Linked DNA regions of Homo sapiens: region 2 is linked to region 1. The links come from fine-mapping of genetic effects on gene expression. A gene starts in region 1. The other region holds a variant in brackets. All regions are shown on one strand. Distances are from middle to middle.

The links. PIP is the estimated chance that this variant, and not a neighbour inherited with it, causes the effect.
Region 2: its variant is the best candidate, but not a certain one, in a credible set for the expression of OPLAH in blood mononuclear cells (TOPMed, PIP 0.84).

The regions. Positions count from the first base shown.
Region 1 is chr8:144,058,092-144,063,447 of GRCh38, reverse strand. It overlaps OPLAH (5-oxoprolinase, ATP-hydrolysing), which reads left to right and starts at 2,756. Exons shown (of 27, transcript NM_017570.5): 1 at 2,756-2,795; 2 at 3,363-3,586; 3 at 3,658-3,849; 4 at 4,369-4,468; 5 at 4,552-4,675; 6 at 4,757-4,952; 7 at 5,044-5,209; 8 at 5,300-5,356. The coding sequence starts at 3,416. RefSeq lists an enhancer at 2,028-2,548 and a silencer at 2,340-2,949.
Region 2 is chr8:143,953,991-143,959,346 of GRCh38, reverse strand. It overlaps a transcript of PLEC not described here. Among named protein-coding and RNA genes, the nearest start is that of MIR661, 11 kb to the right of the region's middle. RefSeq lists an enhancer at 1,111-2,014 and a silencer at 5,327-5,356. The variant C/T (reference allele first, on the strand shown) is at 2,250.

The DNA of each region.
Region 1 (5,356 bases):
AAGCTGTCAGAGTCACTGCAACGGCAGACTCTGTCCTCCCAGCCCTGCGCTCTCTGGTGGTGGGGACAGCCATATCCCTGGGGGAACGTGATGGAAGCCTGGCCGGGGTGGAGGTGTGAGAAGTAGCAGCTCTGTGTTCTGAAGGTGAAAGTAACAGGACTTCTGGCAGATTGCGTGTGGGGATGAGAATGGGGCTGGGGCAGCTCGCTGGGTGGGGGAGCCGCTGCTGGAGTGGGCCACTGGTAGGTGGCCTGGGGCTTGGTTTTGGGACGTGTCTGGCCATGCAGTCAGAGGCGCCACTAGAGAGTAGGGGCCGGGCCATCCCGCAGGCCTGGAGCTGCCTCTGGTTGCTGTGGAGGGGCTGCGTGGCATTGCCAAGGGGAAGCTGGGACCCAGCAACATGGAGGGACAGAGATAAAGGCCCAGTGGGGTAGGAGGCAGGTGGGGCAGCCAAGGGAGGCCTGAGCCTGGGTGGGTGGGGGTTGGCTTTTGTTGGTCTGCCCCCGAGACGCGCAGTGGAGTGGGGTCAGGAGAGCCCAGGAGGCAGGCGGAGGTGGGGGAGGTGGACACCTGGAGGTGCACGGCAGTGGGATGCCGCTAGGGAGCGTGGGGACAGGCCCTTAGAGGTTTCGTCTGTGAGTGGATAGCACAGGCCCCTGGAGTGAACAGAGAGGCGAGGGGGTGGCTGGGGATGGTGGAGGGCAGTGAGAGAGTTTGGGGTCTACAGCACAGGCCTGGCGGGCAGCCTGAGTGCGTACAGGGCAGCAGATGGTGGGGGTGTGGGTGGGTGGGGTGTGGGAATCTCTCCTGATAGATCCTGGGCTGACAGGCAGGACCAAGAGGCTGTGCTGGGGATGGGTGGAAACCAGAAGGCAGGGCAGTCCCGCAGGAGTGTGGGCTGGCCAGGCAGAGGCTGTATGGCTGGTGGGGAAGGTCCTCGGCTGAAGTGGGGTTGCTGACCAGAGCTGCTTCCCACGGACTGCTCAGAGCAGGCAGGTGGGGCTCCTGCATGTGGGCGTGGCATGATCATCTGGGGCCTCAGCTGGGCCTCAGGATGGGAAGGCACTAGGAGGTCCATGGGCATGGGGTCTGGGGGTGGCATCACAGCAGGCACGTGCCACTTACAGGGCAGTCATCTGGACATGAGCAGCAGCCCATCCATGGGGAGGGGTTCCTAAGTGCCTGATCCTGGGCCCCATCCCTGTCTATGGGGAGCTGGAGTCCACTGCCCTTGGCACAAATGTTACAGGAAAGGGGTCCCAATCCAGACCCCAAGAGAGGGTTCTTGGATTTCTTGAAAGAAAGAATTCAGGGCGAGTGCCTAAAGTGAAAGCACGTTTATTAAGAAAGTAGAGGAATAAAGAATGGTTACCCCATAGACAGAGCACCCCGAGGGCTGCTGGTTGCCCATTTTTTTTTTTTTTTTTTTGAGACGGAGTCTCACTCTGTCGCCAGGCTGGAGTGCAGTGGTGCGATCTCATCTCACTGCAAGCTCCGCCTCCTGGGTTCAAGCGATTCTCCTGCCTCAGCCTCCCAAGTAGCTGGGACTACAAGTGCGTGCCACCACGCCCAGCTAATTTTTGTATTTTTAGTAGAGACAGATTTTACCATGTTGGCCAGGATGGTCTTGATCTCTTGACCTCATGATCCACACGCCTCGGTCTCCCAAAGTGCTGGGATTACAGGCGTGAGCCACCGTGCCAGGCCGGTTGCCCATTTTTATGGTTATTTCTGATGATATGCTAAACGAGGGGTGGATTATTAATGCCTCCCCTTTCTAGACCATATAGGGTAACTTCGTGCCGTTGCTGTGGCCCTGGTAAACCGCCATGGCGCTGCGGGGAGTGTAGGACGATGGTTTTGGTAGGTTTGGCCAACTTCTTTACTGCAACCTGTTTTATCAGATACAGGGTTTTTTTTTTTCTTTTTTTTGAGACGGAGTCTCGCTCTGTCGCCTGGGCTGGAGTGCAGTGACACGATCTCTGCTCACTGCAGCCTCCGCCTCCCGGGTTCCAGCGATTCTCCTGCCTCAGCCTCCCGGTAGCTGAGATTACAGGCGCGTGCCACATGCCTGACTAATTTTTGTATTTTTAGTAGCGAGGGGGTTTCAACCGTGTTGGCCGGGCTGGGAGATACAGGTTTTTATGACCTGTGTGTTGTGCTGACCTCCTATCTCATCCTGTGACTTAGAATGCATTAATCGTCCGGGAGTGCAGCCCAGTAGGTTTCGGCCTCTTTTTAGCCAGCTCCTATTCAAGATGGAGTTGCTCTGGTTCACACGCCTCTGGCACAAGGAGGGCTGGAGATGAGGGAGACCCGGTGAAGAAGGCCAGAGATACCGCACAGGAGAGGCCCACGGGGCCGGGAGCTGGGGCTGGTAGAGAAGGCCGCAGGGCCTCCCCTCTCCTCTCTGTCCTTCAACGCCCCCTCCACGGGGAAGGACGTCCGCCAGTGGGAAGCCCTGTTGTGGCCTGGGCTGCCAGCTCCCCTTGCCCAGGACACCTGGAGGTGGGATCCTGGGGCGCCCACGCTAGGCGAGCCCAGGCCCGGCGCCGGAGACCCGAGGGCCGCAGAGCCAAGGTGCCCTTGATCCTGCGCCCGTGGCCCGGGGAAGCGCAGGGCGAGGACGGAGGCGCGGGGGGCGGGCCCGGCCTGATGTAACCGCGAGTGCCGGGACCAGTGGCGCGGGGGGCGGGCCCTGTAGGCTCCTCCCCGAGGCGAGGCTGGTGCGGGCAGGGCCGCCGGGAGCGCAGGCAGAGCCGACCGCGAGCGACCGAGCCGGAGCCGAGCGCCAGGTGGGGCCTGCGCCGGGCGGCCTCCCCTCCGCGGCCCTTCCCCGCTGCCTCCCGGGCTTCCCCTCCGCGGCCCCTTCCCCGCTGCCTCCCGGGCCGCTCCTCACGCGTCCCCGCCTCGGGTCGCCCCGTCGGTGCTCAGGCTCCGTCCTGTCCCGGGGCCCGCCAGGCTTGGGTCGAAGGTCGAGCAAAGCGGGAAGTGGGGTCCCCCGGCCAGCTCGCCCCAAACCCCCTCCCCGCACTCCCGTGCCTCTTTCGTGCTGAGGGACCCCGCCCGAGGGCTCCAGGGTCCAGCGGCGTCCCCACCTCCCGTGCCTGCTCCGCTGCCTGGGTTTCGGCCCAGTCCAGGGCCCGGAGAAGCGCGATGCTGGGCATGGGGGCATCAGGCCGCTGACCGCCGGCCAGGCTCTCGCTCGGGCCCAGGCTGCCCTCGGAGCTGGGCCTGCGGCTCTGGCTCTTCCCAGAGTCGTGCCCGTGGGTCTCTCCCTCAGGAACCCCCCGCATGCGCAGGGCTGGGGAGCCTCTAGTCCCACTCGCAGGTGAGCCCGGGCTGACCCCGCCTCCGTCCAGTTTTTCCAGGGCTACCAGCTGAAGAGCTCCTGTGGGACTCCAGCCCCACCACCATGGGCAGCCCCGAGGGCCGCTTCCACTTTGCCATCGACCGTGGGGGTACCTTCACAGACGTCTTTGCCCAGTGCCCAGGGGGGCACGTGCGGGTCTTAAAACTGCTCTCAGAGGACCCTGCCAACTATGCGGACGCGCCAACCGAAGGCATCCGCCGCATCCTGGAGCAGGTGGGCCAGGGCGGAGCGGGTGGACAGGGACCCCACGGCCAGAAGCCCCACACTGACCACGTGGTCCCCAGGAGGCCGGCATGCTCCTGCCCCGGGACCAGCCGCTGGACTCCAGTCATATCGCCAGCATCCGCATGGGCACCACAGTGGCCACCAACGCACTGCTGGAGCGGAAGGGGGAGCGGGTGGCGCTGCTGGTGACACGTGGCTTCCGAGACCTGCTGCACATTGGCACCCAAGCCCGTGGGGACCTCTTTGACCTGGTGAGCTCCATGTTGGCTGGGGACCAGGCTGTGTGGTGTACACCCCCCAGGGATGCCTTGACCCTGTGGGGAGAGCAGTTGTTGGATTAGTGATGGCTCATGGGCACCAGCCGACAAAGAGGAAGCTCCCGAATTCCCAGTGGGACCCCAAGTTCTCCTAGCCCTCGGAGTGGGCACAGGATGCCCTGTTCCTGCCTGCCGCCATGCCCACCCTGGATGCTGGTGTGGGGCCACCCAAGCTACCCTGTTCAGGCAGAGGAGGGGTGGAACCCCGCACCTACTGCTGCGTTTCCGGAAGAAGCTGCCTTCGTGGGGGTGGAGCAGTTGGCTGCACTCAGCTGCCTAGGGGGTGGAGAGCTGCCCCCTTGGTGAGCCTTGCTGGGGCTGCCAGGTATGACTCTCCTGGGCCTGCCGACCGGCCTGTTGGGACACAGCCACTCACCTGTACCACCCACTCACACAGGACCCCGGCCTGGACCCTCAGGCCTGGGCCTCTTCTGAGTCTCTGCCCGCCCCCAGGCCGTGCCCATGCCTGAGGTGCTGTATGAAGAGGTGCTGGAGGTGGACGAACGCGTGGTGCTGCACCGTGGAGAGGCGGGCACCGGGACGCCTGTGAAAGGTGTGTGTGCCGCCGCTGCTGTGGGATTTGGGGCCGGAGGGTCCTGCTGGCCTTTAACGGGGCCTCCTGGGCTTTTCTGGAAGGCCGCACGGGGGACCTGCTGGAAGTGCAGCAGCCTGTGGACCTGGGGGCCCTGCGTGGGAAGCTGGAGGGGCTGCTATCTCGAGGCATCCGCAGCCTGGCTGTGGTGCTCATGCACTCGTACACGTGAGTGAGGTGGGGCTGTGGGCTGCGGGAGCAGGTGCCGGGCCTGGTGGGAGACGAGGTGCCACTGGGTTTTTGTCATAGGTGGGCCCAGCATGAGCAGCAGGTGGGTGTGCTGGCCCGGGAGCTGGGCTTCACGCACGTGTCACTGTCCTCGGAGGCCATGCCCATGGTGCGCATCGTCCCTCGGGGGCACACGGCCTGTGCCGACGCCTACCTCACGCCCGCCATCCAGCGCTACGTGCAGGGCTTCTGCCGTGGCTTCCAGGGCCAACTCAAGGTGAGGCTGTGAGGCACCCCCACTGCCCACTCCTGGGCCTGGGCCTGGGCCTTGGCCTGCCCCTCATGGCCCGCCTGCTGCCCGCTCGCAGGATGTGCAGGTGTTGTTCATGCGCTCCGATGGCGGCCTGGCGCCCATGGACACCTTCAGCGGCTCCAGTGCTGTGCTCTCGGGCCCGGCCGGCGGCGTGGTGGGCTACTCAGCCACCACCTACCAGCAGGAGGGTGGCCAGCCTGTCATCGGCTTTGACATGGGAGGTATGAGGGCCGAGGGCTGGGGTCTCGGGGAGGCTCAGCTGCTGGGCCCCTGGGTCTTCAAGTGACCCACCAGCACCCCACCCCTGCCAGGCACGTCCACGGATGTGAGCCGCTATGCTGGGGAATTCGAGCACGTCTTCGAGGCCA
Region 2 (5,356 bases), 100 kb after region 1:
TGCTGTATTTTCCTAACTTGTTATTACTGGCCTAAAGAAATCTCTCGGGTCTTTTAACTGCGTTTGAAGCCAGCCTCTCAATGAACTTTCTCTGAGCTCCAGTAAATGGTGAGTTGAGTTGTTTCAGGTGCCAAGAGGAGCAGTGCTGACTTGGGTAAATGCTGTCCCATGTCCTGGCGCTGGACCGAGAGCTGCGCCTGCACCGTCCGCATTCACCCTCACACGCCCTCCCCTCAGCAGCCTCGCCTCACACTGGGAGGGTGCCCCGCTGTGCTACAAGGGTCATTTATTTGCATGTTAACGATGTAAGCTCATTCCTTGTTATAAATACTGGTTTTTATCAAATGAGCTGTCGAGATTTTCTAGATCAATATACCGGTTTTCTCCTTTAATCTGCTAGTGAAGTCAACGATATTAACAGAGTTCTGGGAAAGTGCATTATCCCTGAACTCCAGGAATTCATTTCTTCTCTTGCTCCATGTTTCCTGTGGTGACACCTTCGTGTCTGGTGCTGGGTGAGGCAGCCGCCCCAGGGGCCCACAGGTGTCTCGGTGTTGGAGGGCTGAGAGGGAGGGAAGGGGGAGCCACCATGGATCAGGTGAGAAGCCTCTCCACAGAGGCCTGGCGAGGTCCACCCTGCTGCAGCAGAGCAGGTGCCTGCGTGAGGAGGGCCTCCAGAGGGCAGCGGCAGGGCTGTGGTGGGACCTGCTTGTGCTCGGAGAGCACTGGCTGCTGTTGTCCAGTGCTTGGAGGTGAGGGGCAACGAGGGAGGCTACCACTGTCTTTGAGGTGAAAGGGTGGTGGCCAGGCCAGGGTGTGGTGGAGACAGTGGGCACAGGACAGGTTTGAGAGATATTTGGGAACGATGGGCCCCCTAATGGATGGTCATGTGGGTGGGACCCAGGACCTTCCCCGCAAATTGGTCTCTAGCAGACACCTGGTATTGAGATACTCTTGTACTGGGCTGCAGGGGAGAGAGGAGAAGGATGTGGCTCGGAGAGATGACCTCTGTGCCTCCTGGGCCCTCACTGGGACTCCCAGCAGCCCTGGTGGGCATCCAGTCCCGCAGTGGTGGCCCTCCACCCCAGAAATCCTGCAGGCTGGCTGGCCCGACTGAGCTCGCACTGAGCCCCACCCTGCGCAGGGGTGGCCTCCAGAGCATGGAAGGCTCTCCTCCCACCTGTCCCGCAGCATCCGCAGAGGCCGGGCTGTTGTTGGGCCAAGGCTGCGAGGCAGAAGCCTGGGGCAGGTGAGGTGGCTCCTGTGGACCTGCCGCAGGCTCAGGCGGGGAGCAGAGCAGGGGTCTGTGCCTCCGGAGGGCTGAGTGTGTGCTGGATGTATCTGGCAGGATTTCACTGGGCCTGGTCTCCCTGGGGCTATTGTCGGGGGCCCCAGGTGGAGGTATCTGCCAGCAGGGTGTCTGCCTGTCGCAGGTCGCCTCTGCATGGGGTCACTGGGTCACAGCCCACTGGCCTGCTCCACCACCACCAGAGAGCCCCAGCAGGGCAGGCTGCCAGGGGGTTAGGGGCTGGGTGGGTGGGTGGGCGTGAAGATGGGGCAGGGAGCAAAGCTGAGGGCAGGCAGGGTGGTGGTGGGCAGGGCCTCAGGGGAGGGCCCATCCCATTCGCAGGTGTGGTGTGGGGGACAGGGTTGGAGCCCCTTCTTTGGCCTGGGCCTGTGGCCAGGGCAGCCAGGGCCTGGGGACTGGTGAAGAGGAGGTTGCTCTGTGCCCAGACAGAGGGGTTGGGAAGGAGGGAGGGCTTATCTGTGGTGCCTGGGCTCAACCTTGGTTCTGGGGTCCCCAGTGGTGTGGGGAATTTGCAGAGAGCTTCATGAGGATTTGGCTTTGCCCAGGGTGTGAGACCTGGCCAGGAGACCTGATGGCACCCCAGCTGGGCATGGGGGCCATGCTGGGTTCGACCAGCAAAGCAGAAGCTAGAGGTAGGGGTTTTCCGGAGGCACTGGTGCTGGTGAGCCCGACTGCAGCCTGGGGGTCCCTGCAGTTCACTGGCCTGGACACACAGACCCGCGTGCTTCTTCGGCAAGACTCCTTTGTGATCCATGAATTGGGGCCAGAGCGATGAGATCTCCTGGGCAGTGGCCGGGGCTTTGCTTCCCACGCTCCAGAGCTGCGTCACCAGGGCGCCCAGCTTCCTCTACCCCAGCTCCCTTTCCTCCCCGCTGCCTAAATCTCTTGCTCGTGGGCCCTTCGCTGCCAGCCTGGGACCTGCCTGTCCTGTTGAAATCCC[C/T]GGCTGTAGCCCCGTCTCCAGGCGCCCCCCTCCCGGCTGCAGCCACCTCCACCTTCTTGGGGGTTGCCTGGACTTGTTTCCTCTACGGCAAGGCCTTGGTGCCTGTGGCCTCTCTTCCTGTGCTGGCTGCCTGCGGCCCGTCCCCACATAGCTGTCCCTTCCTTTGGGAAGCCTGTGCCGGGAAGGAACCACAGAGCTGACTGACGTGCAGCTGGCTGAGCCCTTCCCAGGGTCATCGTGGCCGCCCCCACTTCCAAGGCTGCACCATGTGGCCACCGTTCCAGGCAGGCTGGGCTGGGCAGTCTCAGGCTCCTTCATGGGAACTTGCTGCTGCTGCAGCTTGTCGATAAGCCTCTGGCTGCGGGAGACCACAGGTGACCATGGTGGCCACTCACAGGCGGGCAGCTTGACTTCAGGGGGGAAGTTAAAGGCGGAGTCGGTGCATGAAAAGCTGTGTGTTCCTTCTCTGAACAGCTGTGTGCCCTCACCTTCTCATTAGCTTGAAACCATGATCCTATCTTTTTGTTTGTTTTCGAGTCAGTCTTGCTCTCTCCCAGACAGGAATGCAGTGGCGCAATCACGGCTCACTGCAGCCTTGGGTGGGCTGGTTCAAGCCGTCCTTCTGCCTCAGCATCCCAAAGAGCTGGGACCACAGGCCCAGGCCACCGTGTCAGGATAGTTTTTTAGTTTTTTGCAGAGACGGTGTCTTGCTTTGTTGCCCAGACTGGTCCTGAATTCCCAGGATCAAGTGATCCTCCTGTCTCAGCCTCGGAAAGTGCTCAGCCACCACGCCTGGCCAATCTTATAACATTCCATTTTATGCGTTTTAATCCTTTAAAAAAATCTCCCTGGCCGGGCGTGGTGGCTTATGCCTGTAATCCTAGCACTTTGGGAGCCCAAGACGGGTGGATCACCTGAGGTCAGGAGTTCGAGATCAGCCTGACCAACATGGTGAAACCCCATCTCAACTGAAAATACAAAAATTAGCCCGGTGCGGTGGCACACATCCGTAGTCCCAGCTGCAGAGGCTGAGATAGGAGAATTGCTTGAACCCAGGAGGCAGAGGTTGCAGTGAGCCAAGATCACACCATTGCACTCCAGCCTGGGTGACAGAGCGAGATTCTGCCTCAGTTAAAAAAAAAAAAAAAAAAAAGTCTCCCTAGGCTGAGGAAAATTTTTATGCATTAAATTAAAAAAATTGATCTGGACCAGGCAGTGTGGCTCACACTTGTAATTCCAGCACTGGGAGGTGGGAGGATTGCTTGAGCCCAGGAGTTTGAGACCAGCCTGGGCAACACAGAGACAGACTGTCTGTATAAAAAATTAAAAGATGAACTGGGAGTGGTGGTGCACGCCTGTAGTCCCAACTACTCAGAAAGCTGAGGTGGGGGCATCGCTTGAGCCCAGGAGGTCGAGGCTGCTGTGAGCCGTGATTGAGCCACTGCACTCTAGCCTGGGTGACAGAGTGAGACCTTGTCTCAAAAAAACAAAACAAAAAAAAAACAGCATTTTTTAAAAATGTATGAACTTTTTAGATCTCTTTATAAATATCTGTCACTTTCACTTGAGGTTTACTAAGGAAGTATGATTCACTTGCAGGCCAAATTTAGGTTTATCCAGATACAGCTCAGTAAAACCTAGCTGGGAATTCAGCAGTGGCGCGATCTCGGCTCACTGCAACCTCAGCCTCCTGGATTCCAGTGATTCTCGTGCCTCAGCCTCCTGAGTAGCTGGGGCTACAGGCGTGTGACACCATGCCTGGCTGATTTTTTTGTGTATTTTTAGTGGAGATGGGGTTTTGCCATGTTGGCCAGGCTGGTCTCAAACTCCTGACCTCAAGTGGTCCACCTGCCTCGGCCTCCCAAAGTGCTGGGATTCCAGGTATGAGTCCCCGTGCCCGGCCTGAAATTCTGTTTTAATTCCTCACTTCACCATTTTCCTTAAGTTTGGCAACTGGTGTTTCTTGAGACTCCCCACACCCCAACTGGCTGAGTCCCAGGGAGGGCAGGGACGGGCAGGGGGACGAGAGACTCCAGAACTGCTGGGTCTACGGTGGAGGTGGGGCTGGCTTCTGGCCCTTTGCCTGTTAGCTCGTACCCGTGGGAGCTGCCGGCCTCGCTCCTGGATCATGGTCACGTCCTCCATGCCAGCCCCAGCCTGGCGCACAGTGGGTCTGTTTACAGGAGGGGAAGGACTTGCGGGTGAAGGCAGAGGAAAGGCCTTGCTGGAGACTGAGGCAGGCTAGTCACTTCTATCTTGTGGAGGCTGTCCTGCCCCACACTACCAGCACGGACTGGGGTGGAGCACAGTCCCGGGGCCAGTGTTGAAGGGGTGCCCTGGTGTGGGCAGGGCCCAGCATTCCTCCGTGCCCCCTGCAGCGCAGTGAGTGAGGCAGAGCTGACCTCACCCTGCCAGTGCTACCTGCTCCCCCAGGCGTGCGCAGTGACACACAGCTACTCCTGCGGGCTGAGGAGGCTGACCCCATTAGCCATAGGGGTGGTTGGATCAGAGCAGCTGCGAAGGGTCCCTGGTGGTCGTGGGGGGTGGGTGAGGGATGGAGCTGCAGTGTCATCTGGCGGCAGTGGAGATGCTGGCGAGTGGGCAGACTGGGGGGCGCAGCCAGGAGGACCTGTGGGGCTGCCTGTGGGGCATCCTGAGGCTGGGTGGGAGAGGCAGAGACCAGGGTGCAGGTCGGACCTGTCATCTTTGGAGCCAGTGTACAAGGTGCCTGACCCAGGGCTGCGCAGAGGCGAGACGCCCGGGGAAGGGGCACACTGCTGGGGCCGGGGAGGTGGGAGGTGGCCGACCAGGGTCTGGGGGCTTGATCTCAGCAGCCTGCCAGCCCAGGCCCTGGAGTTGGGCCGGCTGAGGAAGTTACTGGGAGATCTGGATGGGTGGGTATCTCCTGCAGGGCGCGGGTAACGGCTTCAAGGCCCTCGCACGTGTGTCCCACAGGCTGTTCTAAGCATGGCTCGTTGCAGTGGACTCGGGGGGCTGTGGGGTGGGCCGGGGGCTGCGGAGCTGGGGAGTGGGCCGTCCGAGCGCTCCTGGATCCGGCCTGGTGACCTGGCAGTCTGGCTGGGGTTAGCGGGGTCGCGTGCCCCAGA